Linked DNA regions of Homo sapiens: all the other regions are linked to region 3. Evidence: fine-mapped expression QTL. A gene starts in region 3. Each other region holds a variant in brackets. All regions are shown on one strand. Distances are from middle to middle.

The links.
Region 1: its variant is fine-mapped to the expression of NET1 in whole blood (TOPMed, PIP above 0.99).
Region 2: its variant is fine-mapped to the expression of NET1 in whole blood (TOPMed, PIP above 0.99). The same link has a PIP of 0.9 or more in T cells and blood mononuclear cells.

What each region holds. Positions count from the first base shown.
Region 1 is chr10:5,560,640-5,571,428 of GRCh38, forward strand. It overlaps LOC105376381 (a long non-coding RNA gene), which reads right to left and starts at 6,242. Exons shown (of 2, transcript XR_001747274.2): 1 at 5,897-6,242; 2 at 2,522-4,666. RefSeq lists an enhancer at 91-592 and a silencer at 3,305-3,531. The variant T/C (reference allele first, on the strand shown) is at 4,216.
Region 2 is chr10:5,548,449-5,559,237 of GRCh38, forward strand. LOC105376380 (a long non-coding RNA gene) reads right to left here and starts at 3,629. Exons shown (of 4, transcript XR_930611.3): 1 at 3,582-3,629; 2 at 2,553-2,694; 3 at 2,196-2,362; 4 at 1,170-1,933. RefSeq lists enhancers at 5,053-5,576, 5,577-6,099 and a silencer at 9,303-9,625. The variant G/C (reference allele first, on the strand shown) is at 4,932.
Region 3 is chr10:5,408,047-5,418,835 of GRCh38, forward strand. NET1 (neuroepithelial cell transforming 1) reads left to right here and starts at 4,511. Exons shown (of 12, transcript NM_001047160.3): 1 at 4,511-4,774. The coding sequence starts at 4,647. RefSeq lists a silencer at 4,423-4,852.

The DNA of each region.
Region 1 (10,789 bases), 150 kb after region 3:
CCAGAGACCAGGGAAAATCTTCAGTGGCCAAAAGCACAACACGACACCTTACGGTGAGGCACGGACCGGACCAGACAACATCCATCTTCCTTTCCTCAAATCTGAGACAGTCCCAGAAGGGTGGGACCCAGAGAGGGGCAGATACAGGCCACACTCTACAGCCAGCAGTCAACACACCCATCCCCCAGAGGATGGTCCTGGGCCCAGACCTGGCAGAGAATGCAGGGAGACCCTCCGGGAGGGGCTCGCCCAGGGCCAGGGACCCAGTCGTCTGGAGACAGTCAGATGAAGCCTGCACGGGTTGACTTCTCTCTGTCATTCAGCTGTGCGTTTGGGGGCACCTGCTGGTATATGGCAGTGTGCACCATGGAGGGTGTGAAAATGAACTCAGAGTTTGCGCCTCAGGTTCCCAGAGGACTTTGCTCATGTCCCATACGGCCACTCACCCTGCATCCTATGTGTTTACAGAATTCTCCAACCCAGCATTCAGATCCAACTACATCTCCTGAGCCCCCAGCCCAGGCCCTGGCCCATGCCAGGCATGCAGGGGCTGGATGAATAAGACAGAGTCCAAGCCTGCAGGACTAAAGGCCCTGCCCAAGGGTAACACAGGCCCTCGAAGCCATGGCGTCCAGCAATAGGACAGTGTCACCCACTAGTTGGGGAGCCACAGGACCTCTGGAGGGGTGAGGGTGCCCGGAGGGTGCATGAGATGCTTCGGAGGGAAAGTGACTTCCCAGGAAGCCCTTGGACAAGGCTGGGAGCCTCCACTGCAGAGAGGGGAGGAAGAGGGTCCCAGGTGAGGAGAAATGAATGTAAAGGGCTCCGGAGCAATGGGGACAGGCGGCCACGCAGCGCTGGAGCAAGACGTGCACGGAGGAGCCAGGAGGTGACGGGAAGGGCCCTGGAGCAGGTGCCAAGGAGGCCGGACGCCCTGTGGGCCGTGTCCCTCCTGCCCTGTGCTGCGGTCCTCACACCACCAGTGACCACAGCAGGAGTAACGACGCCCAGCTTCACTGTGGGCCGGGCGCGGGACAGGCGTTGCTTTGAGCCTTTTTCTGGAATTGATCCTTTAATCCTCACAAACGCTCTGTGGGGAGATCCCTCTATTTTACAGATGAGGAAACCCAGTCTCAGAAAGGCTGAGCTGGCATCCCAAAGTTGAGGAGCCCAAGATGGCAGAGTGACTCCAAGCCCTGCCCCTCTCCTTGCGTCCCCCCACCCCCGTCCTCCTCTCCTGGTGTTACCCTCCAGGTCCCCTTCGCCTGGCATTCCCCCTACAGGTCTCCACCTCCTGGTGTCCCACTCAGGTGCACTCTCCTGGTATCCTCCCAGGTACCCCTCTCCTGGTAAAACCCAGGTCCCCCTCTCCTGGTGTCCCCCGCCATCCTCCTCTCCTGGTATACCCCCAGATCCCCCTCTCCTGGTATCTCCCCCCAGATCCCCCTCTCCTGGTGTCCCCCTCCAGACCCTCCTCTCCTGGTGCCCCTCCCGTCCACAGGCACTGCAGGCAACCCCTCCACTCCCGACCATGGCTCCAGCCCTCCCACTGGCTATACCTCCACACTGGGCCCATTGCACAGCTAGCTCTCGGGTTGGACAGACATCTGATGGCCACATCCCTGTGGAGGGAAGTGTCTCTAAAGGACACACGGTCCCTGAGGGATGTCTTGTGGTGTTCTGTTGTCAGACCACCAGGTCCCACCAGCAGCCATGCCTGTATCTCTTTATCCTCTTGGTCCTGACCCCTTTGTTCTGGTCTGAACATGGCCACTGCTCCTGGAGCCCCAGTGAGGGGAACCAGAGACCACGGCCACTGTCTCCCAGGGTTCCCAAAACCCAAACAATGGGGGCCGCCTTGGTGTGCGTGAGCCCTCCCTCCTCCTCCCTCAGAGTCTCACAAGTCCTCCACAAAGCAGCTGCTTCTGCCTCACAGAACCATTTATGGGGCCAGTTACTGGACTGCTACCTATGACCTTCCATCTCCACCCCAGAACCGAAGCACAAAACTCCCACCTCATTGCTCCCTGACCCAGACGAAAATTCCTCCCCTCTCAGCCAGAGAGGAGTGAGTGAGGGTATCTGAGGCTCTGTCTCGGTTTAGCCTCAAACAAAGGAACTGTCTCTGTGCAATTATTCAATATGAATTGTCAATGTCTATTTCCCCCGTTGTCTTCTTTTCAAACTTTACTAGGCATAGTCATAGAAACTTAAATTTCCTCCCTACCTAGCAATTCTAATAAAAAGCTTTGGTCAGTTATACACTGAAATTTTTAAGGCTGGAATGGTGGGTCATCTAGATTTGCCAAGAAACAGCATGGGGGATTATGGGGAATATTGATAAAATAAGGTTAATTAGGAATTGAAAGCTGTTGATGATAGTGTACACAGAAGCTTATCGCCATATTCTGTTTGCCATTATGAATGCGCAAAATCTTCCAGCAAAATGTGGATGAGAAATAAATAAATAAAGTAAGAATGCTGTTGGGGCGAGAGGCTCCAATGCATGGCAGCACCACCGTTTGGGGGTTCTCTCTTTATTTCATTTCTCCACGTGATCTCTGGCACCCTAGTAACCAAGATTTGGCTGGCTGTGTGTTCCTAATCCAACAAAACCAGCCAGAGCTGGAATTGAAGTCTTCGAGGTGGAGTGAACCCCAGTGAGCCCACCCCAGGGCTGCCCCCCCAGGTCCGCCTCACAGACCCACTTCTGCAGCCCCCCGTCAGGTCCCCCTCACAGACCCACTTCTGCAGCCCCCTGTCCAAGTCGCTGCCCCAGGTCTGGACACGGGCTGGAGGGTCATCGTGGTAGTTGCCTCTGAGTCAGCAAAACGCTGCTGTCACCTGTGAGGTCTGCAGTGCGTCTCAGAGGAGTGAGGTCCTGGAGGGGTCCTGCCAAGCCGAGATGCCGGAAATGGGGAGCTGCCGGGGAGGGGAGATGGGAGGTTGGAAAACGGTGTCATGGGAGTTCTCTCCTGGGCCTTTAAAGTGCCCATTCTCAGACAGAGGAGTCCAGAGGGACGTCTGGAAGCTTGGTTTGGAAGAAATTCCAGACTTCCCTGGGCAGCCAAGGCATTCTCTAGCTTTCTACGATCCAGGCCTGGCCCCTGCCTCATAAATCTCGCAGGAAGCGCTCTCAGGAAGGACGCTACTGGCCTGGGGCAGCCTCGGAGTTGAATGAAGATGGTTTGACTCTGAGAATGACTGGCCCCAGCCAGATTCCCCGTGGGGCAGCCCGTCTGTTTGGAAGTCTCCTTCCCCGCCGGGCCTGCACACCCACCCCTCCTGCCACATCAGCCCCAATATCTCTGCATTGAGCCCAGTGGGCACCTTCCCTTCCGTTGCTCAGAGAGCTTCAGAGACAGACCCTTACTCCTGCATTGATGTCCATCCAAGGGACGGGGCTCAGGCTGTCCCTTCCAGCTCACGAAATAGGTGCAGAGCCAGGCAGAGCAGCCCAAGTGTGACTCACACCCCGCCAGGTCCCGTGGGCACTTTCTCAGCAGGGTTGTGGGGGCAGCAACTCCATCCACTTTCCTCTGTCCCCTCACCCGCCCACCACTGCCCACGGCCAGAGTCACTGGAGCAGCCTCCATTCCGTCCCTGCACGGCAGTCACCATGATCTCTCCAAACCACAAGTCAGGGTGTTGCCTCTGCTTACAAGCCTTTGGTGACTGCCTGCCGTCTCAGACATGCTCAGCAGCAGTCACACTCACCGCCCCGTCATGCCTGTCTCTCACCGTCCTCCCGGCTCGCTCTCCTCTCACCAGGCTTAACGGCCACACTTCCTGGGGCACTTCTGTGACCCCAGGGCCCGGCTGGTGCCCTTCCACGGTGGTGCTTCACCACCTTGCAATTGCTGGTTTACATCCCTGATCACCCAGACTAAACGTGAAGGGCCAGGACTGTGCTGAAAGTCCTGAAACCCAGAGATGAGAGCTCAGCTCAGACCGCACGTGATGCCTCGGTGTGGACATGTGCCCAGCTGAGCGTGCAAGCCCCTAATGGCCGCTCAGCAATGCTTGTGTTTTCTCCCTTGAAACTCTGGAGCAACTGCAGCCAAACATCCTCTGCTCACTCTGTTTGTATCTCTGTCCTCTAAATCAGCCCTCTGACTTCCTCCCCGCCTGCGATGAGACTGTGAAGGAATAACAACATCCGGAGGAGATTGTGCCCCAACTTGGCTGTCGAAGGGGCCTCATCAGCCACCTTCA[T/C]GGCCCAGACGGTCAAAGGCTGACCCCACAGAGTAAGGCTGGCCCTAGGAAGAGTGGGTGCTGGGCAAGGTCCACCGTGTGCCGCAAGATCCCCCATTTAATGCAAACAACATCTCAATGAAAGATAGCATCAAAGACGGCAGTCTGAAGCCCAGGGAAGGGCGTGGACTTTGAAGTTGGGCAGGTTTGAGTTTAAGTGTTGTTTTGCCACTTCTGCTGTCTGTACCATCTTGGCAATCTGTAAAATGCATATAACACCTCGTGTGTTAGGGTGGGTCCTTGCTGCAATAACAAACAACCCCAGATCTCAGTAACTGCGTGCAATGAAACACCTGCTTCTCCCTCACACGAAGCCGAATGTGATGGTTTCTAGTTACATGGTTCTCTTGGGTGGGCTTCTCCCAGGCCGCAGCTCCACTGAGCTCCATAGTCCCCCGCTGGATCTCCTGCCCTAAAGTGGTCAACAGATGAAGAGAGACGGTGTGAGTATTGGGCAGGAGGTTTCTGGGGCAGCCTGGAGGTGGTGTCCTCCAGCATCACTCCCAGGGGCCCCGGCTGCAAGCAGGACATGCTGAAGCTGCAGTGTTCTGGGAAAGACATAGCCCCGCTTCTGCCACACCTGCCTGGCAGAATTGTCATGTTTTAGGGGACGGCTCGTAAAATGGCTTAACAGGCTCTTGGCCCAGGGACTGCTAGAATAGTGAGTTTCCTTCTTCTCTTCGCCTTTGGTGATGTTGGGGCTGGAAGATTTCTAGAATGAGCTGTGTCTGTAAAGAAGCCTCAAGTCTTTTTTTTTAAGCACCCGCGGATGAGGCTTTTTGAGGCACTAGCCGGGCATCAGAGGCCCAGGGAAGTTCAAGGGTTCACCCTGATTGGCCTGAACATCTGGGAAGTTCTGGGCTGAGCACGATGACAAATGTGCCTCCCACCCCCACCATCCACACTCATCTACCCACACACACGGGTTCTGTCCTGCCCCGAAGGAAGATGGTTTCAGGATGACTGGATTTCTGAATTTCCTCCGTGCAGATTAAGGAGGCTTAAGAAGCCCGCCTGTTGGGAGGAAGCCTCCGACCGGAGCTGCTCTGGCTGGGAAGGGGTGGCTCAGGGTGGTGCCTGCTGTTCAGCCAGGCTCCCCGAGGCAGGTGGGATGAGACACCTGGGTGGGGCGGGCAGAAGCTCAGAGTCTGCACGGTGCCAGGGAGGATGATGAGGGCGAGGATGGATGAGCCCACAGGGGTGCATACTCCACCTCCCGAAAACACAAGGAGCTCAGCGGCTGCACACACAGGCAGCACAGAAAAGAACAATGGGGCAACTCGAGGGCGTTCTGAGGGTACCTCTTGCCTACATCACCTGGTTTTAGTCATCTCCCACGTGCCTGCCTTCAGGCTGATGGACTTCTGTGAGATCCCTGGGTTGCTGGCTTTGAAAGCCACTGGGTACCGACCACCCACATCTTGGCAGGGGAGCTCCCATTGCTAACATTGCTTCATAAAGTGCCACTGGAGAACAGCTGTTGAGTGGTGACCAGCCCCCAAGGAGTCAACCGCCTTTCCCACCCCCAACTCACCAGAGTCCCATGAGGACACCCCACACTCAAACCCAATCTGGACAAAACTGTCAAGGACCCTAACCCAGGCGTGCCCCCCACCTTCTCATCCAGCTCCCTTTGACTCACTTGGGTGGTCGCAGCCGCCGGCTGTGATTTCTGGCCCATGCCTAGTTATTTTAAAGGCCAAATTTTCACAGCCATGCAACAGGCCCTTATCTCCAGGCCTTCAGATGCTCCCATGTGGCTTGTTTGATTCTCCTTCATATCAGCCCTCTCTCAAGACTCAAATTTCATTTCAAACCAAATTTCTCTTTTCTCCATTCTGTTGACTGGGCATCACCATGGCAACCCCCACCCCCATTGCAAACATCCTCTGAGGAACGGGCCCACATGCAGGGGCTTGAACCTGTCATCGCTGTGAGTCAAGGTGAGATGAGCTCACTTCCCTTGATCAGCCATGAGTACTGAGTGCAGCTTCAATTTGTGTCTTTGTCACTAGGACAACTCTGTGACTAGTGTGCTTCGGTTAGGGCAAAAAGTCCTTCTCCAGGAGAAAGAAGTAAGTAAGTTACCTGCCTTTACAGACAGTTGGTCCAATGGATAAAACAGGGGCTGCCAGAGAACCCTACAGAACAAAAAACCTATCATGCAAGATTATTACATATCTATCTTTTTTTCTCAGAAAAAGGCTGGGTGCTGTGGCTCACACCATAATCCCAGCACTTTGGGAGGCCGAGATGGGTGGATCACCTGAGGTCAGGAGTTCGAGACCAGCCTGGCCAACGTGGTGAAACCCTGTCTCCACTAAAAATGCAAAAATTAGCTGGGTATGATGGCATGTGCCTGTAATCCCAGCTACTCAGGAGGCTGAAGCAGAATTGTTTGAACCAGGGAGACGGAGGTTGCAGTGGGCCTAGAATGCGCCACTCTACTCCAGCCTGGGTGACACAGCCAGACCCGTCTCAAACAAACAAACAAACAAACGAACAAAAACCTACTAAATACCACCTATAACAAAAATGAATTTGAAGATTTCTCACAAACTCATGGTCACAAGCTTCTTTGGTAGTTGATTTTGTTGAAACAAAAGCTGACCATAAATCCACAGAAGACAATTATGAAGGAAAGCCACCCCACAAGCTTTGCTACATCCAGTGAAAAACACGTGCTGCACACATGAGTCTCCAGGATATGAACAAAATGTTTACGAGCCAAAAATTATGAAGAAGGTATTGATCTCAATACATTTTATTAGCATCCAAATAGCCATCCACAAATATTTGCTCAGTGATAAGGAGGAATGCTACCTTGTTCAACATCTATATTCTAGAAGTTAATCATTTTCAAAGAATCAGCTCATTAACTAATAAATAACAATGTTGTCTTCCACCATAGTTTAAGGCAATACCCCTTCTTTTCCTATCCATCTGCATGGTTTGTTTTGTTTTATGATGTGAATGTTATATATTTTATCAATATATGGACTTCTTAATGAGCCTGAAGACAAAAACCACATCCTTGCTGTGGCTATAGGAGGCGATATCTCTCCGAAGGTCACATGGGATCATTTCTGATGAATACACCAGGTATAAGGAGGTGTGTCTCTCAGACCTACAACAATCTAAGGAGGAATGCCCTAAACCTTGGTTCAAGGGATGATTTCATGCTTGTATACATACACAAAAGTCCATCAAACTGTATAGATTTGTGCACTTTATTATATCTTGGCCTTATTTTTAAAAACAGAATAAAATTATCAGTGAACCTCAGAGAGGGTCTCAGTTTCTCTTGCTTTTGACCACAAAAGTGTCAAATTCCTCCCAAATTATGGAGAGAAGCTAGAAGGGAGAACAACTAGGGGCTCAGGCAACACGGTTGTGAACTGTAGTTAACGTTTAAGGGCCGGGAGATCTGTATCTAAGCAAATCATCAGTAAATGCCAGCTTATCTCAGACTTTGTAAACTAATTTGTTTTATGCTTCCTGAATTCTCATTTATTCTCCTTCATTCTCAGTATTAGACAAAGTACAGTCAATGCTTGTCATTCTCAGTACTTCTGTTCTCTAAAGTCACCAAGAACAGTGAATTAGCAAATACAGTCAGCTCTCCGAATCCATGGATTCCAAAACCTCAGATTCAACCAACCCTGGATTGATAATGTAATTAGGCCTATGATGGTTACATCTGTACTAAACATGTCTATTTTACTTCTTGCCATTATTCCCTAAACAATATAGTATAACAACTATTTACATGGTATTTACATTGTATTAGGTGTTATAAGTAATCTAGAAATGATTTAAAGTATACAGGAGGGTGTGCATAGATTATATGCAAACACTATGCCATTTTATATCAGGGCCTTGCATATCTTTGGATTCTCGTATCCGCAGATGGTCCTGGAACAAATCCCCCAAGGATACCAAGAGACAATTATGCTGAACCATTGTTCCCAGGAGAAATATGGGGTATGTTCCTACCAGCCCTGACCATAGCATTTTTGTCAACCAATCCATATATAACTTTGTTTTATGTATGTTTCTGTTTAAAGGCACCTTATTTAATATAAAGTGTTGATTCATTGGTGGGTAAGTAGTTGGTTGGTTAGCGGGTGGTTTGTTGGCTGACTGGTTGGTGGGTAAGTGGTTTTTGGTTGGTTGGTTAGTTGGTGGTTGGTTGGTGCTTGACTGGTTGGTTGGTGATTGGCTAATTGGTTGGTTGGTGGTTGATTAGTTGGTTGGTTGGTAGGTGGGTGAGTGGTTGGTTGGTTGGTTGGTAGGTGGGTGAGTGGTTGGTTGGTTTGTTGGTAGGTAGGTGAGTGCTTGGTTGGCTGGTTGGTGGTTGATTGCTTGGATGGTTAGTGGTTTATAGGCAGTTGGTGATTTGTTGGTTGGCTGGTGGGTGGGTGAGTGAATGAGTGTGTGGTTGGTGTGTGGTTGGTTCGTTGATTGGTTGTTGGCTGGTTGAATGAATTAATAAATTTTGCTCTCAAAAGCTCATAGTCCCCCCCAAATCCCTTCTCCATCTGTCATAAAGTCTGATATTTCTAAAGTTAAGATCCTCGATTAAAAAGCATCATGGAAATGTAAATATTTAAACTGGATCACAGAACTATCTTTCCTGGGAGGTGAGAACTCACTAATGAGTTAATGAATGGCACAGGATTCATTTCTCCAGTCATTTTTCCCTTATGATTCCATGACACCCGTGGAAAGAATGGGCACAAGGTAGGTATGTGTCTATGGAAAAGAGGGAAGAAGTAAGAAAACATCTGGAGTAAGACTTTCCTCTCTAGTCCTAGAAAAAACCATTGTGATGCCAGGAAAAAAAATTATCTTCTCTCAAAAGAGTGTGTTTACCTTTAGACAACAGCTATCTGTTGTAAAGGCTCATCAGTCCCTCAGTGTGTCACTGTGATCACAAATCTCCAGGAAAGGAAGATTTTGCAGGCAAAGTTTCTGGGAAACATTTCACAAGAGAACGGCAGCCCAGCAAAATGTGCATTTGGGGAGCCTGGCTTGGGACATGCATCTTACAGCCTGGTTTGCTGCCAGGATCCCCCAGGACACTCTCAAAAAAACAGATCTCTAGGCTCCCCCGAAACCTTTGGAAATATTCTTGAGGGACCAAACAAGAAGCAGATACTTCCGAGAAGCCCACCAGGTGAATCTGACGATGAGCCCAGGTGTGGAATCTCAGGCAAGGCCTGGTGGAAAATCCGTGGTCTGCGAGGAGAGCTGCCTGGGAACCCGGCACGACGGGGAGACACTTGAAGGAGGGGCACATGCGCCAGAGGTGAAGCTTTGCCCTCTCCAGCACAGAGTGGGCCGTGAGCTGTCCGCCACAAAGGCGGAGAGATGAGGTAAGAGGGAGGCTGCATTGTTTTGATGTCCAGGCACAGACTTGGCATCCACCAGCCCAGGCAGCGCCACAGCCAGGCTGGCTCTGGAGGAAAGGGTGGGCCATGGCTTTGAAGCCAGGCAGGCACACTTCCTCCAGGGCCCGGGTCTGCATGCAGGGGCACGAGACTCAGAAGCCAGCTCGCCCATCTGTTTCCGTTACATGCAGATGGGGCAGAGGGCGGAGGGCGCAGGGCTGGATGGGGACCAGACTGTGAAGCCTTCGGGGACTGCGTCCAGCTGCATCACAGGTCTCATCTGGCCCAAGGAGGCCGGTGGGGCGGTGTCAGGGAAGCCCAGTGTCCAGGGCTTTGAGTGCTAATTCTTCTTCCTGGACATCGGTCCCCCTCCTCACTAGCTGGAGGCAGGGTCCCTGCCTTGCTTTTGCAGGCACCCAGTGCCTGTCGTCAAGCCTGGCCTACAATAAGTATGTGGTAAACATTCATTAAGTTGAACTGAATGCTCCTTTCAGTGAGAAGATGAGCTCTTCCATCTCTCTCATTAGACAGAGGTCCCCATCAAGGGGTTCACATCAACTGGTTGTTAACAAAAAGAGGGACCCTGGCCCAGCCAGCACCTGCACACAGGAAGCATTCAGTGATGCTGGCTTTGTTGATTTGCAATGACCATCTGCAAAACTCTCTTCCCTTTATCCGGGTGTGGGTTTGGTTCCTGTGTATCCAGATGAACGTAATTGCCATCATCGATACCAGATACCCAACCATGACCCCTTCTTTTCCCCTTTTTTCAACTTCTACTCTAAGTGTAAACAAGTTAAATGATTTGGGGTTGTTTTGCCCTCATCTGATTCAAAAAGAGGTGATGAAGCATCTCGGTTCTACCAGCTGTGTGATCACAGAAAAATTGCTCAACCTCTCTGAGTGCCAGTTTTCTCAACTGCTAAATGGATTTACAAAACCCACCTCGCAGAGTAATTAGAAGGATTCGTGTACCTAATGCACTGGAACAGAGGCGGTGGTTGATATCTAGAAACTAGTATTATAATATTCTCCATCCTGGGACAGTCTAGCCCTAGGGACTGGATCCCAAGATCATGGTGTCCCAGAGAACTTTGACCTTCACAGCTGCAAACAGATGGAGGGACAGGGCTCAGAGGTTC
Region 2 (10,789 bases), 140 kb after region 3:
CCTGAGCAAGCTCTACCTAAAGGAGTTCATTGAATCCTCACCACCCCTCTGAGGGAAAGGACCATGTCCCCACTGCCTGGATCAGGAAACGCAGACTGGCCGAGGTCAAGGACTTTGCCAGCGGTCACACAGACAGGGAGTCCACCCCCAACACCTTTACTCTTTCCACTCACTGAGTCCACCCCCACCCCAGAGATCCCCCAGCCTTCGCTCATCCTTTCCTCATCCTCCCAGAACCCAGGATCTGCAGAGCAGGAAGTTCAATAGCCAGGCCTGATGTCGTTAGTCAGTCCTGGGGACAGGCATCCTTTCCTGTCCCCTGTGAGTTCAAATTCCAACTCAAGCAACATACAAACGCCAAACTCAGCTCACACCTCCGGCTCTGAGCTGCAGGGTCCACTTGTGGGGAAGGGGAGACAGCCCAGCTCCCTCCCTCCCTCTCCCTTATCCACACACATACACACACTTGCACACACACAAAGACACACATGCACATGCATGCACACACACACTCGTGCACACACACACGCCTCCTGGCATGCCACAGGGAGATAACGCACACAGCCACCTCCCAGTGACCACAGAGCTCTATCTCAGGGTGACGTCACCTCATACACAGCTCCCAGTTCACTCTAAGTGATTCATCGAGGGCGTAAACTCTGAGGGCGATGGAGGCATCAGGGTACAGAGATGAAGTCAGTTTAGTGCCATTTCCTATCCATGGGCTCCCCAGAAGTAAGAGAGAAAGGAAGGAAGGCCTTTTAAAAGTCCACATTGGAGCCAGTGACTTGTGGCTTTCCCTTGCAGAAAAGAAACTTTGGCAACAGCTAGTAGTCATCTTCTCCTGAGCCCGCCAATCTCACAGCCCCCTCCACACACACACACACACACACACACACACACACACACACACACACAGAGCTGCAGCTGCAGCACTGCCTAGCTGGCCCCCAAACACTGTAGCGCTGAACAGACCAAAGATGGAGACACTAACTGTGATCATCATAACCAGTGTGCACTGAACACTCAGCACGTGCCAGGCTATGCTAAGCCCTTTCCATGTGAAAAAGAAATTTCCACTTGATTCCCACGACAACTCAACAAGGTAGGAACTGTTAAAAGAAAACTTTAGACGAATTAAATTTAAATTAATCTAGCAATCAATTGAGTTTCATTTGAAATGAATTGAGTTTAATTAAGCAAAGGATTCATGAAGTGGGCAGCCCTCAGACCAGAAGAGGTTCCAAGGGCTGAGCTCCACTCCACAGTGTGGGCAGGGAGTGTTTATAGACAGAAAATGGAAGTGAGCTGCAGAGACAGCTCATTGGTCACAGCTTGGTTTGCCGTGTTTGAACATGGACTACTCAGCAGCCACCTGCGATTTATAGAAGCTCAGCTGCTGTGATTGGCTAAGACTCGGCTATTTCTTACAAAAGTACACTCCTAAGCTAGGCCTGCAGTTCATTTGCTGCTAAGGTCGCAGTTGGACTCAAAGTGCAGAGGCATCCTCAGACCAAATTTGGTTTAATTTAACCCTACCATTATTCCCATTTTTCAGATGAGGAAAGTAAGGCTCAGAGCTCGGGTAACGCCTCCAAACTCCCACATCTAGTGAGTGGCAGAAGAGCCGTGGCCAAAACCTGCGCTTTCTGGCCGGAAAGCCCAAGCTCTTCCCCGCTCCAGCGTGGAGCTTCTCTGCCATTTGAACCACCTGTGCTCAGATGACTCTCAGCCCTATCCTGCTCTGCTTGGCCGGGCCCAGAGCCCATCCCATTCCATCTCCTCCATCCCCGCTTCCTTCCATGTTGTCCCCTGCAGCTTCTTGTCTGCACCACACTGTGGAGTCCAGCAAGGTGACTCAGGGAAGGGACAGGAGATGCAGCTACCTCCTGGTTCCTGGAAGCTTCTGACATCCCAGGTGGCCTCTGAAGATCTGCAGAATAGGGTGGGTGTGGGAGCCCAGGTGGAGAGAGGCTGTGGTCAGCTGCATAGTATCACCCCCAAAGATGCCCTCCTCCTGATCCCTGGAGCTTGGGAACACGTGACCTCCCTTTGTGGGGGTGATTGGGTTATGAACCTGGATCTGGAGAGATGACCCTGGATTATTGGGTGCACCAGGAGTCATCCCAGAAGCGCCTTATAAGAGGCAGGCAGGACTCAGCGCTGATGGTAAGAGTCAGTGGAGAAAGAAGTACCTTATAAGAGGCAGGCAGGACTCAGCGCTGATGGTAGGAGTCAGTGGAGAAAGAAGCAATGCCAGGAAGGGGCCTCAAGAAGCCAAAGAGGCAGAAAGATTCTCCCCTGAAGGGTCCGGAAGGAACCAGCCCTTCCAGCACCTTGGTTTGGACTTCCGACCTGCAGGCTGCGGGAGCGACATTTGCGTGGTTTAAACCACTGTGTTTGTGGCAATTTGTTGCAGCCACCCCAGGAAACTAGTCCAGAGAGCACACCAGAACCTCGGGGACTTATTGGCGACTATGCTAGGCGGCTGGGGCGGCCTCAGCAAAATGCCCCAGGCTGCCGGCTTGACCAACAGAGACAGATGCACTCACAGTTACCAGCACTGGCAGGGCTGCTTCCTCCAAGGCCTCTGCCCTCAGCTTGCAGATGGCCGCCCCTTTGCTGCCTCCTTGCACGGCCAGTCCTCCAAGCCACCTGCCCCTGGAGTCACCCTCTGGGAGTCCTAATGTCTTCCTGTAAGGACACCCATCAGACTGGCTCAGGGCCCACTCACATGACCTCATTTTAACTTAATTACCTCGGCAAAGACCCTCTTTCCAAACACAGTCACAAACCAGGTGGAACTGGTTTGGGCTTGCCTGGAGAACTGGTTGGGGCAGGCCAGGTGAGAGGTGAAGGAGGGCAGGAGGGTCCCTGAGAGATGGCTCAGCCTAGGAGCAGAAGGACCAGGTCTGAGTGAATCTGTCAGGCCTGGGGTGACTCACCACATTTCTCTTCCAGGCCAGACCTCCGCCGCCGGCCTCATCTCTTAGGCCTAGTGGGGCCTCCAGAAGACAGAACCCCACAGCCTCATCTCTTAGGCCTAGTGGGGTCCCCAGAAGACAGGGGCTGACAGGTGGTCCTGCCTTACAGCAGAGGGGACCAGAAGGCCGCTGTGCAAGGGGCTCAGTGATTTTAACCTAAGCCCGTGTGCTTCACTGCTGGGAATCTGTAAATGACGGCTGGGGGGGGTCTGTGCAGGGACATTAGCAACAGAGACAGGGGCCAAGGAGATGTGGGTACATGCACCTGTCAGGGTCACCCAGGACTCCAGAGCCTGAAGGTCCCCAGCACCACCCAGGCTCTCTAAGGTGCACCTGGCCCAGCTCACATTCCCAAGCCAGCCAAGTGACTCAGAACGCCACCCCCCACCACAGCCTCCCCTCGTTGACCACAGCCTCCCCTCGTTGACCACAGCCTCCTGTCTCCACATGACATCGAAACTGTCTCTTCTCTCCCGGACAGGAGGGGAGGAATCTGCACAGACAAGGGCCAGGGTTCAGACAGAAGACAACGCCCACACCAGCCACTTGGATCCGGAAGATTCCTGTACACACTTGCATGGGTGTAAAATTACTAACCTGGTGGCTAAAGAGGTAAACAGGAGCTCTGAGGTGTCACCCCTGAGGCTGAGGAGGCAAAGGGAAAAGGTTGGGATTCTTCAAACGTGGAAACTTGGAGGTAGGGGCTGTGGGCCTGGGCCCCTAACCTTGAAGGAAGGGGTTCCAGCTGTAAAGTGTCTGAAGTGGGTGCAAGGAAGTTGCATTTGCAAGTGCTGGAGAAGCTGCAAAAAGAGTCAGCCTCTGCCACTGAAAGAAGCCGCTGCTGCGGGGGCGGGGGGTGCCCACAGGGAAGAAACAAACTCTAGGGTGTGGGTTTCTGCTCAGGCTGGGCAAGTATCTTTATGAAAGGGACCTGCATAAAGCGTCCATAAAACCTGCCCCTTTGCATCCTCTAAGCCAGCAGGTTCCCCATGCCTCACCCCTCTTTCCTGAACTCCTCTTCACCCCAATCCCCATTCCTAGCACCCCCTAAGGACAGGCTGTGCCCTGACAACCGTCCATCTCTACCCAGCTGAGACCTCTGTCCAGGGCGATGGTTGCAGGACCATGCAGACACGGAAGTTTGCTGAGATCCCACTCCAACTGCCTGCTCTCAGATTCTGAGTATTTCTCTAGCCCCCTCATAAAAACACAGGTCACTTTCACACTGAAAGTAAAAGATCCCTCCTTAAGTCCTTCATCCTGCATCTCCACCACCCGCCAGGCCCTGCCCTGGCAAAAAGTCTCACAGCCTTTTAAGGTGACCCGAGGACCCAACTCTGTCTCTTTCTCTCCTCTCTGTGCTTCAGCTTGTTTCCTGGCCACCAGCAAGGTCCCTCTTTGGTCTGGGAGGTAGGTGTCTGCAGGACACTGGGAGGATTTAAATACAATGATCAGTGTGGGGCCCCGAGAGGGCCTGAGACAGGATTTCCACTGATTGCCAACGTTCAATACGGACCCCTAGGAGACAAGCAGGAACTCCTGTTCTTATCCACACCTCTGCAGAACGGCGGAGACCACTCAGCCATGAGAGTGGCCTCTACCATTTCAGAGAGTAGCCGAGGAGGGAGCCATCCTCAGCCACTGCTGTGTGGTCGGTGGGCCTGGTTTCCACACGTCACAGAGCCTGGCACCAGACCGGCTAAGCATGGGCCTTCGTGGCACAGGCCCAGGAAGCTTCGAGTCCCAAGATTTAATTTTGTTTTCTGGGCCTTTTGAAAGAAAACGTTGTCATCAATGATTGCTCTCTAGCACGTGTCTGAAGAGCGGCCACCAAAAGGAGCCACTGCTGCAGGGGTGTCCACGCGCGCAGGGAAAGAACGGACTCCAGGGGCTGGGTTTGCTCTTGGAGAATGAGGTCGTCAAAACCTCACTTCGTGGGGAAGTCTG[G/C]AAAAGACAGTTTCCTGCTTTGTTCATCGTGGGCAGCAGGAAACGGTGCAGCCTCCAGTGAGAATGATTCCAGGAGGGTGTAATGGGGCGAGGTATGAAGGGGTAGGCAGTGTGGGGAACCACCCACCCGGGCCATGTAGCTGGCACCGTGGTAATTTAAGAGACCTGGAGAGATAGGGGAGGGATGGTCAGGGGACTTGGAAAAGGAGGAAAGAGGTGGGGAGGAGCCCAGCGGGAAGGAGATGCCTCATCACACCCTCCTCCCTCCCAGCCCCACAGGCTCCCACTGGCTGAGCCAGCCAGAGCCAGAGAGCACAAGGTCCCCCACGATGGCCCCCGCCGGTCAGTGTCCTGGGGGAGGAGGGGGTGCACCTGGAGGGGCAACTGGAAGGCACCCAGGACCCCCCAGAACCCCTTGGGCAGCCCCAGCTTGAACTGCAGGGAATCTGCCATTCAAGATGGCTGCTAGAAAATGGCGATTCTACCTCCCAGGTGACTCCAAGGGCTCTTACCCAGAGTCCTGAATAGCCACAGCCCAGCCCAGGAGTCCTAAAAGGAATTCTAGAGTGACCCGGATGGTTGTAAGGGCCTGAGAATGATCTGTGCCGTTCGGCAGAGACCCAAGTGCTCTCGGAGTGACCCAAACCTCAGGGCTGAGAACAGCTCGAGGTTCACCTGGACTTACCCCTGCTCCCCCACAGATCCTCGGTGCACCCTGGGATTTCCACAGCCACGTGGATTTTAAGCCAAATCCAGGATGATCCCATGACACACAGGTCTCAGCTCCCCATGGGGCATTTCTCTCCAAGACCACCTTCCTCCCCAGCTCACCGTCCACGTCTACAGAGCCATGCACCTCCGTGGCAGAGCTGAGTGCACGTGGCACAGAGTCAGGGCTGACATTGAGCAGGGCACCCTTGGTCTCCCCCAAGACCCATCAGAGTGTGCCTGGCACTGCCTTTCAATAAAAAGCCCAGGGTCTGAGCAGGGTGGGGCGTCTCCCCTCCCCCAGCCAGGATGAAGGTCAGAGCTGAATTTGCTCAGTTCAACACCAAAAACAGTCCTGAAGGAAAATGTGTTGAGCTTGGCTGTAAGCCAGGTCGTTAAACATGGATTCTGATCACAGATCGTTTCTGCTAATTAAACAAATATTTTTGCAGAGCTGTCTCGGTTTCCGCTGTTGCCGTTGGCCTAAGTTGCTGGCAAACCATTGGAGCCATGCCCCGAAAGTCAGCTCAGATCAGAGGAGAACACACAGAACTTTTGAAGGAACAGCTAAGACAGGTCTTCCAAACAGAGAGCTCTGTTCAGAGAGAAGGAACAGGCAAGAAAACACCGACACCTCCAGCCCTTACAGTCACCAAGCTGTACTTTCAGATTCCTGCTGACATACACACACACACACACACACACACACACACACACACACTCTCTCTCTCTCTCTCAATCCCTCCCTCTCTCAGAATGCATAGTCCTTCTCCCTGCCTCCATCTCTAAAGCTACACCTGCACACACAAATAAGCATTCTAGCAGTGCAATCACTATTCCAAGTTTGAAGACTCGTGTGTGTGTGTGTGTGTGTGTGTGTGTTTTCCTGCTGAAGTGGAGAGAAAAGGGCCAGACAGGATGGGCCCTGGGTCCCCATGTGACGTACCCCAGCAGGGGTCCTTTGCTCCTTCAAAAATGCAATTATCACAAACTTCCCTCGCCCTGGACCGCGGTTCCAGAGAAACGCCCATGCACATAATGTTTTGGTACAAGTTCAGGGTGTTCGTGAACTTTCTGAAGCCCGCCAAGAGCGCACTGCGAGTTCCAAGTTTAGAATACCAGTCCTGGGGAGTCAGGAAGCGTTTGCAGCCTCTGAACTGTCCGCAGAACTGTCAAGCACCCAAGGCTCGTCCTCTCTCAGCAGCTCCGAAGCCCCCTGGACTGCAAGCACTCAGCACCCAGAGCCTTCCCTGCCATGCCCCAGCCCTGAGGTGTCCTTTCACACTCCGGACCCCCCGGCCTTTCTCAGAAAACGCTCCGTGCTGCGCTGTGTTGTCCCCACTTGTTGCACAAGAGTAGTAGCGACAGCAATGCTGACCAGGCCTGGTTGCACACAGCCCCCTGCCCCAGGTCCAGGGCTGCACCAACACCCCATGCCCGTGGACACATCGGCAATCTTGAACCCCAGACATCTTGTCTATCACTTGAGACAAGGGGATTGCATCAGCAGCTTCACACTCTTTTCCTTTCTTTATGTTTTAGATTTGGAGTCTCTGTCACAGGCACAGGCTGTGGTGAGCCATGATTGTGCCATTGCACGCTGAACAGGCTGGAGTACAGTGGCATGATCATGGCTCACCACAGCCTTGAACTCCTGAGCTTAAGTCATGCTCCTGCCTCTCAGCCTCCTGAGTAGCCGGGACTACAGGCCTGCACCACCACACCAGGCTAATTTTTAGATTTTTTGTAGCAACAGGGTCTCGCTATGTTGCCCATGCTGGTCTCAAACTCCTGGGCTCAAGCAATCCTCCCACCTTGGCCTCCCGAAGTGCTGGGATTACAGGTGTGAGTCACGGCACCTGGCAACACTTTTTTTTAGCCAAGAGCCCTTCCGATGGACTCTCATGAGTTAAGCCAGTCTATAAAGCACAGCCAAGCAGCCAAGCTGCAGTTGAAGAGGGGATGGGAGAAGACCTCCCACCGACCCCCAGGTCTCTGAGAAGCACAGCTGGAAGACTCTGGCCCTCTAGCCCACAGCCTCCTAAATGCCCTGGGCTCAGCCATGTTGTGACACTGGGATTTCTCAGGGACCTCAGACCTACACATCTCCCTCCCAGCCAACCCACCACCCCCATGCCATGCCCAAAACCAACACTCTCCTTGACGAGTTATGCAATCCTTCTTTCCAGATCATTCTGTGGTATGTAATCTAACAAACTAGCCATGCTTAAGGGTTCGGAGGGAGTGACGGGGTTAATGAGCTGGTTCTACCCCTCAAGGAGGATTTTGCACTTGTAATGGGGATCCCCTTACTCCAAGGGAGAACTGCTCAAATATATTTTTTGCATGTTTTTAAATTTCAAAAGTAAGGTGTGATTTTGATAAGCAACGACTATACTATAGAAATACCTTGTTTAGGAGATGAAAATGTCCCCTGCCTCCCCCTCCAAATTCAAGCCTTTTAGGTAAAGCAATACTTGAATGACAGGCACGGTGGCATTTGTGTGCAAGGAGAAGACTGGGTACCACCAAGTCCCGGGGTGGACGCCGACTCCTTCCATGGTTCTGCCTGTGCCGACGCTGCCAGGAATGCTCCCCAGGGGCTCAGGAGTGAAGCTTCGTGGACTCTATGCCTGGCTTCCTGAGCAGGTACAATTCCGAGCACCTCGGGCTGCTCCTCTCTGGCTCCTGCCACCTTCCTGAGACAAAGGGTCAACCCTCAGCTGACCTCGCAAGGGTGGGAACAAAACCATAAAAGGATAAGACATCTCCTGATTAGAAAGTGATGACTGGGCTCGTGAATGCCAGACCATGTGGGGCTGAGTGACAAGCAAGAGCTTCCTCATCACCAGGGGTCAGGGGTCTCTTGGCCATGGGCAGCAGGCACTCATTCCTTCCACACTGTTCTAGGGGAGAAGAAAATAAAAACCAACGCTCCAAGGAGCTTTTGATTTATTAATAGTTGGGCTGGCAAGAAATAAGGACTTAGAGATTCAAAACTTCGATGGCTTCGAGTCCAGGCCACGCGGCTGTGTGGTCTCTGCTGGAACATCCTTGGTGGCGGAAGCTCTGCGCCTGGTGCTGGAGGAGGCCTGAGGATCAGGAGATCTTCCTCCAGGGAGCCCACTCCTCCACCCCTGTGGCATGCAGCACTCACCCCACAGGCTTCTGCCTGGCTGCCCCCATATGGAAGCTTCCAGGGCAAGCCCAGAGGTTCCCTGCTCCCAGCCCTTGGTCCTGCCACTGCACCCAATAAAACATCCCCATCTCACATGAAAACGGCCCTCTGAGGAACCCGGCGTCTTTCCGGAGGGAGGTTCCTCTCTAACACCGGGGCTTCCCTTGGGGTCTGCTCACCCAGGCTTCTATGTCCTCGGCGTGTCCTGTTTTCTGAGCCCAGGGAATCTGGGGGCACGTCAGATCTCAGTGTTGGGGAGCTGCCGCCAAACAATACATCAAAGCCGGTTTCTTTTCAAAGTAGAGGCTGTCTTATTATAATTCAGGGACAAATTCTAACTAAGTTTCCAGAAGGAGGCCCCGGTGTGGAGGGGCCTGTCTCTCCCTGAGCGCCTGCGTCTCCTGGCTCCACCAGGCCTCTCACCAAATGGTGTTTTGCAGCCTCTTTTCCCTTGGGAGGGTCTGGGAGTGGACAGGGCATGTCTTCCCCTTTCCCCGAGGGAAGGGTAGGAAAGGAGTTGCTCTTTGCCCCCGCATTCCAACTACCAGCCAAGGGAGCAGGTCCTGAGACCCCCCGCTGGGCTGCCTGGCTGAGGGGTATCTGTCCCTGAGGCTGCCAGGAGGCTGTGCGACACGTGGCCGGGAAGCTCAGTGCTCCAGGGAAGAGGCCTGAGAGCAGCGCCCCTGGGGGTCTCTGGGCAGAACCAGGAGAACCGGCCAGCGTCACTCAACAGTGTGCCCTGTGGCATGTCGTGGGGAGCGCAAGGGTCCCCGGAGCTGAGTGGGTGCTGCAGAGGAGCTGGGCTCATCGGGAAGGAGGTGGCCGGGGAGGGGCTGGGCTCATCGGGAAGGAGGTGGCCGGGGAAGGGCTGGGCTCATCGGGAAGGAGGTGGCCAGGGTGACCACGGCAGGAAGATGCAGGAGGCACAGAGAGGCCGGAGGGGTCATCTGCCCATCAGGGAATGCTGTGGTGCTGAGGACCCCGTATGCTGCTGGGGGTGTTCCTCCAGAGAACTCACCATTATGTAAATGCAGCCCCCACCCAAGAAAGCTGGCGCCAGCTTCCCAGGGTGAAGGCAGCACCCGGAACCAGCAGCACCATGTCCCCTCACCCTGTCCTCTTTGCTCTGACCCCCAGAGGAGCCTGGGCGGAGGCAGCAGGGGTTAGTCCAGAAGCTAGAAGGGCAAGCGGTGGGGGCAAGGGCACTGCACAGGGCTGGACGCCACCCCCACGCTGCCTCCTTAGCCATTTGCCCCCACCCCTGACTGCAGCCCCAATCCTCCACCACTGGGGAAGGAGTCGGTGCCCTCGGCCACCTTCCTGGAGGCAAGCTGCTGCCCAGGAGGGAGAGGCGAGGCCACTGTCCCCAGGAAGGAGACTCGGCTGCCTTCACACCCTCAAGCTGTGCCAGGGCACAGGAAGAGCACCCACCTATCTGGCAGGTGCACCTCTAAGGTCGCCTTCCTCTGGAGGGCCCCCGACGTCCCCTCAGAGGGAACAGGCTCTCTGGAGCCCGGGTGGTACTGGGCTGCTCCTGAGTAACTGAGCAGACTCAGGAACCCCAGGTCCTGCCCTTCGTCCAGTTCCCAGTTGCCCTGGACAAAGAGTGAGTGTATCTGACACATCAAAAATCCTCCAAAATATTTACTGAATTTAGTTTAAAACAAGGAGTGCACTGTCTGAGGATAGCTCTGGTGTTCTCAGCATCAATTCTCTCCCAAGTCTTCCTTATAGGGGAGACGTGTCCTTGCAAACACAACTCAGCTTTATGAAAGTACGTGGTTTTTTTGCTTATTTTGTTTTTTGAGGCAGAGTGTCTTGCTCTGTCACCCCAGCTGGAGTGCAATGGTGCGACCTCAGCTCACTGCAGCCTTGACCTCCCCGGCTCAAGTGATCCTCCTGCCTCAGCCTCTTGAGTAGCTGGGACCACAGGCATGCACCACCACACCTACCTAATTTGTGTATTTTTTGT
Region 3 (10,789 bases):
CTGTCCTTTGCCATTCTCTCTGGCCCCTACCATTGCACTGAAACCCCTTTCTCCTTCCTCCTCTGTTCTCCTCTCCTACTACTAATATAAATCAGTCTTTTAGACCTGCAATGTCTTTAGGAAGATAGTCTAAGCGTTAAGAAAAATGAATTACAGTCTACTTTGGATTAATAGCACCTTCTCTGGCCACACATATTTCATCTCAAATTTTATTGTTCTCTAAGCTCAACAGCTAGATTTTGGAGTTTTCCATTTTCCTCATTGGAATACCTAAGAGTAAACCAATATGGTAAACAAATGATTCATAGATGATTGATTGATTGATTGACTGATTGAGGCAAAAAATGAAACAACCTCCCCCCACATCACACATACACACACAGTGATAGATTTTAAGGGATGACAAACCTGATTTCAAATATTCTGCCCTATTGTGCCTATAAGTACACTTCTGCTTGTCAGAATGACAATCAATGCAGTCCACATACTTAGCTGTTGGACTACACTCCCTTTCATTTGGCAGGAACAATTAAGTTTGACCCAATTAAAAATTACAGTCTAATAAACAGTTTTGTAAATTAATCAATAGTAGATATAGTAAATATATTTTTAAAAATTTCAGACTTTATTATAACATTCTATATATAAATTATATGTATATGCACACATACAGACATTCATTCTCCTGAATGTAATTGCTGTTAGTTCATGAGAAGCTATGAGAAGATTCAGACAAAAAAGAAAAACGTTGATGCAAAGGGCAATTCTCTAGTTATTAAGACTACTAGTTTTCTAATGGTAGGTCATTGTTTGCAAATTTGCTACATTTTTCTATGGGAGCCTACAGACCAAAGGGGAATCATTTAGCTAGTGATAGCAATGGCAAACAAAATATCACATCAAAATCATCAAATAATTTGGAAATTAATAAAGTGTTTTGATGAACACTTTGTACTCTAATATATACATATATATATATATATATATATAAAACTTGGTAAGCAGTTTTGCAAAAATAGTTTGATTTACTTAGATAATGAAAGAAAATAGGTTTTTAAATTATTGATTTACATAATAATTTACATTCATTTATTGATTGTTGAATTTATTTAATATCAACTTGCAAAATGATTGGTGTCATCACATAGGGCTGAAGGTTTTGGAAATAATCTTTGAGGAAGTTCCCCAAAAGAATATTTGTTTTGCAAATCCATGGTTGAAAAAGTTTGGGTTACACTTTGCTCTAGTCAAGTTAGTAGGAATATCTTCTCAGAGAGGGAGTTCTAGAGTCTGATTTTATATATATGAAAGCTGAAATCAAAACAATTTCCTCAAACCCTATCCCGGTGAATATTTTAAGGGAGAAGGATGATTTGTGGGGAACTGAAAGAGAGAGGATTCAGAGAACATTTGTCATGGTTTTGGGACTGTTCTATACAGTGTAAGACATAGAACATGGGGACAATGGCATTCAGACACCAGAAAGTTGATCTCTTGTAAGATCAAGAGATGTCACCAGCCTTTCCCAGGTCTTCAATGACCAACCCTCAGAGCGGTCACTTTTCTTTGCTCTTCTTCTATGGTACCCAGCCATTTTCTGATGAAAATTTGTCTTCTATTCCTTATTTCCCTAATGTCTAGCACAGATCCTGGCATATTATAGCAGGAATTTAATAAATTCTTGTGAATAATTGAACAAAATCATAAGTTCTCAAGTGAATGAAAATTGGAAACAGTTGCTCTGCATAAAACAATAGTATTCAGGTCACTGGAAAGAAGTGCCCACCCCCACCACTGGAATCCCCACATTGACATCCTGCAGTATCTATCATTTTGTGAGTAGTTATTACAAGTTACCAAAGGACTGACCACCTCTGATGACACAATCAAAACCAGTTTCAGGACCTGCAAAGCTGAGGACAGACCCTGAATTCTGAGGATCTCACCGAAGTATGTTGAAACTATTAATATGAAACGGCTGTTTCTGTGGGTAAAAAGACCAAGCGTCAGCGATTCACATGGTCCTATCTTGTGAACAAAAGTTCTCTGAAAAGGAAGTTTGGAGAAAGGAGACTTTATTCTAGTGAACAGTTTGCAAACCAGGGAGACACAGCCTTCGGAGTAAAAGAAAGGTGATTCCAGAGAATAAAGGGGAGGGTTTGGCTTCTATAGAAAAAGTTCTTGTCCAGGTTTCCAATCAGATGTGTTTATGCAAAGGAAAGATTCAGACTTGCTCAGTTCAGATTGGGTAATACAGCTGAACCCTGATTGGATAAAGCAGATGAGTTCTGATCGGTTACATCAGGTGAGCCCTGATTGGTCAATTCGGGTAAATTGTGAAAATCCCAAAGGGGTGTGAGTTTTCTGGACACAGAGTAGTTGTGACCTACTTGGGACCTGACTTGAAGAATTGCTCTTACAGGTTTATTTTTGTTCATAATCTAAACATCTGCATCCTCTGAAGCTCTGTCTTGGTGGAGACCAACTCCCCAAATATTAAGAACATTTCTGTATTCTTACACTCTAACTGCTACAAAGCAGTACTTTCTTCTTTAATTTTTGGGGAGGGATGGGGAAGGTAGAACAGAAGTGGTTCTTGACCAAGGTCAACTTATGTTCAGAGCTGGTTCCTTCCGGTGGGTTCATGGTCTCGCTGACTTCAAGAATGAAGCCATGGACCTTCATGGTGAGTGTTACAGCTCTTAAAGGTGGCACAGACCTAAAGAGTGAGCAGCAGCAAGATTTATTGTAAAGAGTGAAAGAACTAAAGCTTCCACAGTGTGGAAGGGGACCCCAGTGGGTTGCCCTGCTGGCTGGGGTGGCCAGGTTTTATTCCCTTATATGTGCCCTCCCATGTTCCATTTTTGTCCTATCAGAGTGCCCTTTTTTCAATCCTCCCTGTGATTGGCTACTTTTAGGGTCCTGCTGATTGGTGCTTTTTACAGAGCACTGATTGGTGCATTTTACAATCCTCTTGCTAGCTACAGAGCACTGATTGGTGTGTTTTACAATCCTCTTGCCAGACAGAAAAGTTCTCCAAGTCCCCACTCTACCCAGGAAGTCTAGCTGGCTTCACATCTCAATGTTACTCCCTAATTTCTTACTCTTTTTAAAACAAAAACATTTTTCCCTCATGTTATAAAGGTACTGCAAATTCAATATGTCCTTATTTTTAAAAAAATTAAATGCAAAAAATAAAAATAAAAATTTTGAATACCTAAAGTCTACCTAGAGACATTTTAATACATTGACTTTTTAATACATTTAATACATTTTAATACATTATCTTTTTTCTTTGTATAATCTCTTGTAATTCATAACTTTGAATATACTGAATATACCTCTATACTTCATGTTTTTATTTCAAATTACCAGTATACTATTACATACTTCACACTTCATTTTTGTTGGCTGAAAATATTCTTCTCAGTGGATGAGCTATAAATCATTGTTTATTTAGGTTGTTTTAAATGTTTCTATTATAAACAATGTCATTAATAGCTTCATGTTTATATAATTTTATTTTTTAGGATAAATTTCCATAAGTGGAAATATACTGGCAAAAGAGAAGTGTTTTTTTGTTTTTTTTTTTTTGGAGACGGAGTCTCGCTCTGTCACTGGGCTGGAGTGCAGTGGCACGGTCTTGGCTCAATTCAAGCTCCGACTCTCTGGTTCAACTAATTCTCCTGCCTCAGCCTCCTGAGTAGCTGGGATTACAGGCATGCGCCACTCTGCCCAGCTAAGTTTTGTATTTTAGTAGCGACAGGGTTTCACCATGTTGGCCAGGATGGTCTTGATCTCCTGATCTCGTGATCCGCCTGCCTCAGCCTCCCAAAGTGCTGGGATTACAGGCGTGAGCCACAGCGCCCGGTCAGGAGAAGCTATTTTTAAAGACTTTGACACATATAAAGCAATATTTAAAATCAAAGAAAGTGTAATTTGTTTAACAATTTTTTTTTTACTTGAAGCGGTCTTTTATTTTATATTATGTCTTTTGCTGACTTTTACAAGCAAAGGATGAAGTCACTTCATTCTGTTTTGCTAGGGAGAGACTGTGTCATGCTTATTGGAAGACATAAGGGCTCATAATTAGATTTTGCTGGTTCCCTAGAGACAGTCCCGGGAACACACTTGCATAACCTTTGGTAATTGGAAATATATCTCATATTGGCCACGTGCACAATAATTCAGTGTGAATATGGCCAATAAACATGCCTTGTTTACAGGTCATTAGTTTGGACCTCTCTTCTCCTCAAATGCTAAGAAAGATCTGGTGAATTAAAATGCTTCCAGTCCATTTGCCTTGGCCTGTAGTGAAAGTCCTAATGAACAATGAAGGAGGTACCGGGCCTTAGGGACTCAGGGATGCGCTCAGGAGTTAAGGGCAAATTTTCCTAGGTTCTTTCCTAGGCAAGTAGATCCCGGGAGCGGTGGAGGGGCGGGACTCCACGTCTCCTAGGAACCGCTGCGCGCTCACTGATTGGCTGATCGCTGCTCAGCCGCCATTTTCAAATCCCCGGATGACGGCGGTGGCGGCTGCAGTCCGCTGACAGGCGCTTTCTGCCTGGCAGAGGCTGGCGGGCATCGTGCCCGTCCCTGCCGGTCTCCCGGGCACCCGGCCACCGCCCCACCCCCTCCTCCGTGCCATGGAGCCCGAGCTGGCGGCTCAGAAGCAGCCTCGACCGCGGAGGCGAAGCCGCCGGGCCTCTGGGCTCAGCACGGAGGGAGCGACGGGGCCTTCGGCCGACACCTCCGGGTCGGAGCTGGACGGGAGGTGAGTGTGGGGGAGGGGAGGGCCGAACGGGAGGTGAGTGTAGGGGAGCGGAGGGCCGAACGGGAGGTGAGTGTTGGAGAGGCAAGGGCCGGGGGGAGGGGAGGGCTGGCCGGGAGTTGGATGTGGGGGGCGGCGAGTGGGGGTGTTGGTGAGGGCCAGGGGGAGGCGAGGGCCGCTGGGAGGTGAGTGGGGGGTGGGGGAGGTGACCGCGGGGTTGGGGGGGGGGACGGGGGCCGCTGGAAGTGAGGGTGGCACAGGCTGGAGTGACAGTGTGCCTGGCCTTGGACCGAGGTCGGTCCTGAGACCCCAAACTGCGATTTTCCCTGCCTGTGGCAAAGGGGCGGGTTTATTGAGTCTCCTCGCCTCCTGACTGTTTCTCAGGGGAGACTTAGGAAAAACCACAATGGTTTTGTTCTGCACACCCAACTGGCTGTAGGCTGGCGTTCCCAAATGCCTTTGCTCAGACCGAAACTGTCATGGTGAGCACCACGAGAATGGGCTTCCATGTCCTGAGAAAGAAAAGACTAAGGGATAAGTTGACTTCGGGATATGTTATGAGATGCCTATTAGAGAGTTCATCACAACCATTTTCGTGTTTTTTCTTTTTACTTTTTGTGGAAGTATACATTGAAATGAGAGTGTATGACTCGTGTTTGGCTCAGTGAAATTTCACAAAGCGAAGCTCAGGGGATAGCTAGTGAATTAGGAGGAAGGGAACCAAGTGAGAACAGTATCCAGGAGGCCAAATGAAGAAAGAATTTCAAGAAGAGGACGTGGCGAGCTATGTCAGATGTTATTGATAGGTCAAATAAAATGAGGATTAAGTAAAATAAGATGAGGATTAAGCTAGATGAGGAATGAAAATTAAATTTGGTAATGAGAAGAGAGTATTGATCTTAGATGGTTTCCAAGAATGGTTACAATATCGAACTTAGAGTGTTTTGCAACAGGTTGAGAAGAGAATGTGCGATTTGTTCAGAAAATAATGTGAGTGCCAACACTAGGAATATGGAAATGGAAAAATACTCTTGTTACTATTTAAGATTTATAATCTAGTGGGGAAGAAAGATAAGTAGGTTAATAATTATTATAATATGTGATAAAAGTTATTATAGTGATATACACAGAATGCCGTAGATTAAAAGGAACACTTAATCCTGACTGGAGAGAATAGGAAATGATTTCCTATTGTAATCCCTGAGTCTTTAAGGACCAGTTTAGAGAGCAGATGTAAATGGATGATTTCAGGCAGAGAAGCATGTAGAAAGGCCCTGAAGCAAATGAGTCTGATGAGTTCTGGGTATATATTCTATTTTATTACTATATTAACAGTGATATTTGTATAGAGGAGAGGAAACCAATATGGGGAGAAGGAGGAGGTAGTCATGAGAGATGATGCTAAAGAGGTAAGCGCCACATCATGAAGAGACCTTGTATGCCTTGACAGAGTTTGGGTTTTATCTTCATGGTAATGGGGAAATACTGAAAGACTTTAAATGAGCCAATGGCATGACATATTTGCATTTTAAAAGATCAGTTTGCCTTCCATGAGAAAAATAAGCAACATTTTGGAGTCATCTCACTCTTCATATTTTATGAAAACTATTCCCCAAAAATGTGCACATATACATAAACATTTCAGGAGATTTGTGGACCCAGCTGTGTATACCAAATTAAAATTTCCAAGTTTAGCTGATGGATTGGTAGGAAATCAGTCTGCAGTAGTCTAAATGAAAAAATGATTGTTCGAATCTGATAGCTGGCAATGGGATTGGTGAAGAGAAGTTTCACTGCAACAGGAAGACAAGAAAGAATAGAGAGAAATAACACAATTTTGTGGGATAGACTCTTAAGAAAGAATAAATTCCCTTGATGTGCTGTGCTGAGTTAACAAATAGAGGGAGAGGTTGAACAGACAGTAGAGGAGAAAAATGGTTGAACAAGGATCCAAGAAGGCAGAAAAGGACAGAATCCAAATTCAAGGTAGAGGATTTAGCCTAACAAGAAGCTATGGATGATATATAGTTTTGAAGAATGGGGTGTGTTGTGAGCAGGAATTTGAGGACTTTCCCACCAGGCCTCTATTTTTTGTGTGAGGTAGGAAATGATACATTGTGAGAAAAGCGTAGTAACACAGGCAGCATGAGGAGAGTGAGACACAGTTAGAAGAACCATGGAGAGAAAATGGAGAATTAAATAACATATTCCTTTTCCAGAAAAGATGTAAGATCATCTACAAGAATACGTAAAATATTACAAGATAGTATTAATTGTGAGGCAAGAAGCAACTAAGCACTGTATCAGATTCAGAAATCATAAGGAAAAAGATTTGTGTGTATGATTATGTGACTATTGAAAAACGTTCTGCAGGCAAAACTCAGTATAAACTAATTTGAAAGACAAATACGTACAGTACAATTTACCCACTTAAATTGTACTACTTAGAACATTTTCATCACCTCAAAAAGAGCATTTGTACCCTTTAGCTATTGTTCCTCTCCTACCCCTTCTGCCCTAAAACCTAATCTGTCGGTCTGTAGGAATTTCTCTGTTCTGGACATTGCATATGAATGGATTTATGTAATGTGTGTGGCCATTTTTGGTGGGCCATCCTTTGCTCTTTTTTTTTTTTCTTTTGAGACGGAGTCTCAGTCTGTCACCGGGGCTGGAGTACAGTGGCATGATCTCGGCTCACTGCAACCTCCGCCTCCCGGGTTCAAGTGATTCTCCTGCCTCAGCCTACCAAGTAGCTGGAACTACAGGCATGTGTCACCACGTGTGGCTAATTTTTTGTATTTTTAGTAAAGACAGGGTTTCACCATGTTGGCTAGGCTGGTCTTGAACTCCTGACCTTGTGATTTGCCTGCCTCGGCCTCCCAAAGTGCTGGGATTACAGGCGTGAGCCACCGCACCTGGCCCTGTTCATTTTTAAATTTCTTTTTTATTGAGTTGTTAAGAGTTCTTTATTCTGGATACAAGTCCCTTATCAGATAGATTATTTGCAAATATTTTCTCTTATTCTGTGGTTTGTCTTTTCACTTTCATGATGTGCTTCGAAGCACAAAAATGTTTTAGTTTGTAGTCCTACTTGTCTATTTTTGCTTTTGTTGCCTGTGTTTTGGTGTCACATCCAAGAAATCACTGCTAAATCCATTGTTATGAATCCTTTCCCCAGTGCTTTCTTCTGAGAATTTTATCATTTTAGCTTTTATATTTGGGTCTTTAATCCATTTTGAGTTAGTTTTTGTATATAATGTGAGATGACGGTCCAACTTAATTCTTTTTCATGTGTCTATCCAGGTACCCCAGCACCATTTTTTGAAGACTGTTCTTTCTCCCACTGAGTAGTCTTAGCACCCTTGTCAAAAATCAGTTGACCTTAAGCATGAGAGTTTATTTTTAGACTTTGACTTTTATTCTCTTGATCTATATGTAATAGCCCTATGCCATTACCATGGTGTTTTGATTACCGTTGCTTTGTATAGTAAGTTTTGAAATTGGGATATGTGAGTCCTCCTACTTTGTTCTTTTTTTCCCAAGATTGTTGTGGCTATCCTGGGTCTCCTGCAATTCTATGTGAATTTTAGAATCAGCTTAATCGATTTTTACAAAGGAGTCCACAGGGATTCTGATAGAGATTGCATTAAATCTTGTAGATCATTTTCAGGAGTATTGCCCTCTACAGAGAGTTAAGTAGTCTGATCCATGGACAAGGGATGTTTTTCCAATTATTTAGATCTTTAATTATTTTCAACAGTGTTTTGTAGTTTTCAGAGTATAGTTCTGCATGTTTTGCTAAATTTATTCCTAAGTATTTTGTTCTTTTTGATGCAGTTGTAAATGGATTCATTTCTTTTGAAATGGGAAAAGTTCCCTTTTCCCCCTCGCAGGGCGTGCACTGGAGGTGTGCTCGCTTCTTCGGTGCCCTGCTGTTCAAACCTCTAGGGGAACATATAGATAGGCAGGCTGTGGGGCTCCAACCCCATAGCCATGTCTATGGGTGAATGTTTACAGCTGAAGCCTCAGTGGGCTTGTGTTACAGGGTACTCTTAGTTTAGCCATCCGTAGGCGGCTTGTATTCATCAGCTCAGTTAGACCCCTGCCTTATTTCAAGGACAGGGGGCCTTCTGTATCCCAGGGTTCTTGCCTTGATGTACTGGAACAATCAGATGACACGTTGGCTTGGATAATGATTGCAAGCTTTTATAGAGTGGAAGTAGCTCTCAGCAGATGGGGGAGCCAGAAGGGAAATGGTTTTGCCCTGGTGTCAGGTTGCCCGATTCTCCTCCAACCTCCCTGGCCAAGCTCTGCGTCATTCTGCGAATCGATGGCCTGCCAGCTGGCCTGCCAGCGTGCTGGTGTACTCCCACGTCGATGTGTTCCTCTTGACATCCAGCCACCTGTGTGTCTGCCTGCTAGGGTCTCGGGGGGTTTTTATAGGCACAGGTGGGGGCGTGCTTTTATAGGCACAGGATGGGGGTGTGGTGAGCCAGGGTGGTCTTGGGAAATGCAACATTTGGGTAGGAAAACAGAAATGCCTATCCTCACTTAGGTCCGTGGGCCCAGGCCTGGGGATGGAGCCCTAGCAAGGGACCACGCTCTCCTCTACGCAGCACTTCCCTGCCCCGCTTTGTATCACTTTATTTTCAGTTTAATAATTTCAATTGTATAGGAATACATACAATTGATTTTTGTATATCGATCTTGGATCCTGCTACCTTGCTGAGCTCATTAGTTCTAATAGTTTTTTAGTGGTTTCTTTAGGACTTTCTGTGTACAGGGTCATGTCATCAGCAAATAAAAATAGTTTTACTTCTTTTTCCAATCTCTGGATGCCCTTTACTTTTTTCTCTTTCCTAATTGCCCTGGGTAGGGCCTCCTGTACAACGCTGAACAGAAGTGGAGAGACGGGAAATTCTTGTCTTGTTTCTGATCTTAAGGGGAAAGCATACAATCTTTCACCATTAAGTATGATGTTAGTTGTAAGCTTTGTAGATGTCCTTTATCAGGTTGAGGAAGTTCCATTCTGTTACTAGTTTTTGAGTGGTTTTTATCATGAAAGGTTTTAGGGTTTTTTTTCTTTTGTCTATTGAAATGATCATGTGGTTGTTGTTATTACTGATGTGTTACATTAATTGATTTTTTGGGATGTTAAACCAACTTTGCCTTCCTGGTATAAGTCCTGCTTGGTCATTGTGTATAGCTTTTTTAAATATATTGTTGGATCCATTTTGTTAATATTTTGTTGAATATTTTTGTATATATATTCATAAGATATTGATCTGTAGTTTTATTATCTTGTACTATGCTTGTCTGGTTTTGGTATTGGGATAATACTGGCCTCATAAAATCAGTTAAGAAGTATTCCCTACTGTTTTGTTTTTTTTGAAAGAGTTTGTGAAGAATTGGTATTCTTTCAATGTTTGGTAGAATTCAGTGTAAAGCCACCTAGGCCTAGACTTTTCTCTGTGGATAGTTTATTATTATTATTAATTCAATCTCATCTCTTGTTGTAGGTGTCTTCTGATAGTTTGTTTCTTATTAAGTCAGTTTCAGTAGGTTGTATCTCTTTAGGAATTTGTTTCATCAAAGTTATCTAATTTGTTGGTGTACCCTTCCTTGTTCATAGTATTTCTTTATAATCCTTTTCATGTAATGTCAATAGTAATGTCCCCTCTTTTATTTCTGATTCTTGTAATTTGTGTCTTCTTTCTTTTTATGATGATGGTCAATCTAGCTACAGTCTTGTCAATCTTGATCTTTCCAAAGAATGTGATTTTAGCTTCATTAATTTTCTTTGTTCTTCTATTCTTTGTTTTATTTTCACTTTAATCCTTATTGTTTCCTTCTTCCTGCTTAGTAATCTGAGTAATCTGCTCAGATTAGTCTGCATGCTTTAGGTTTAGTTGGCCCTTTTTGTTTCCAGTGTCATGATTATAGATTAAGTTACTGATTTGAGATCTTTTTCTTAATATAGGGATACAGCTATAAATTTCCCTCTGAGCATTGCTTTAG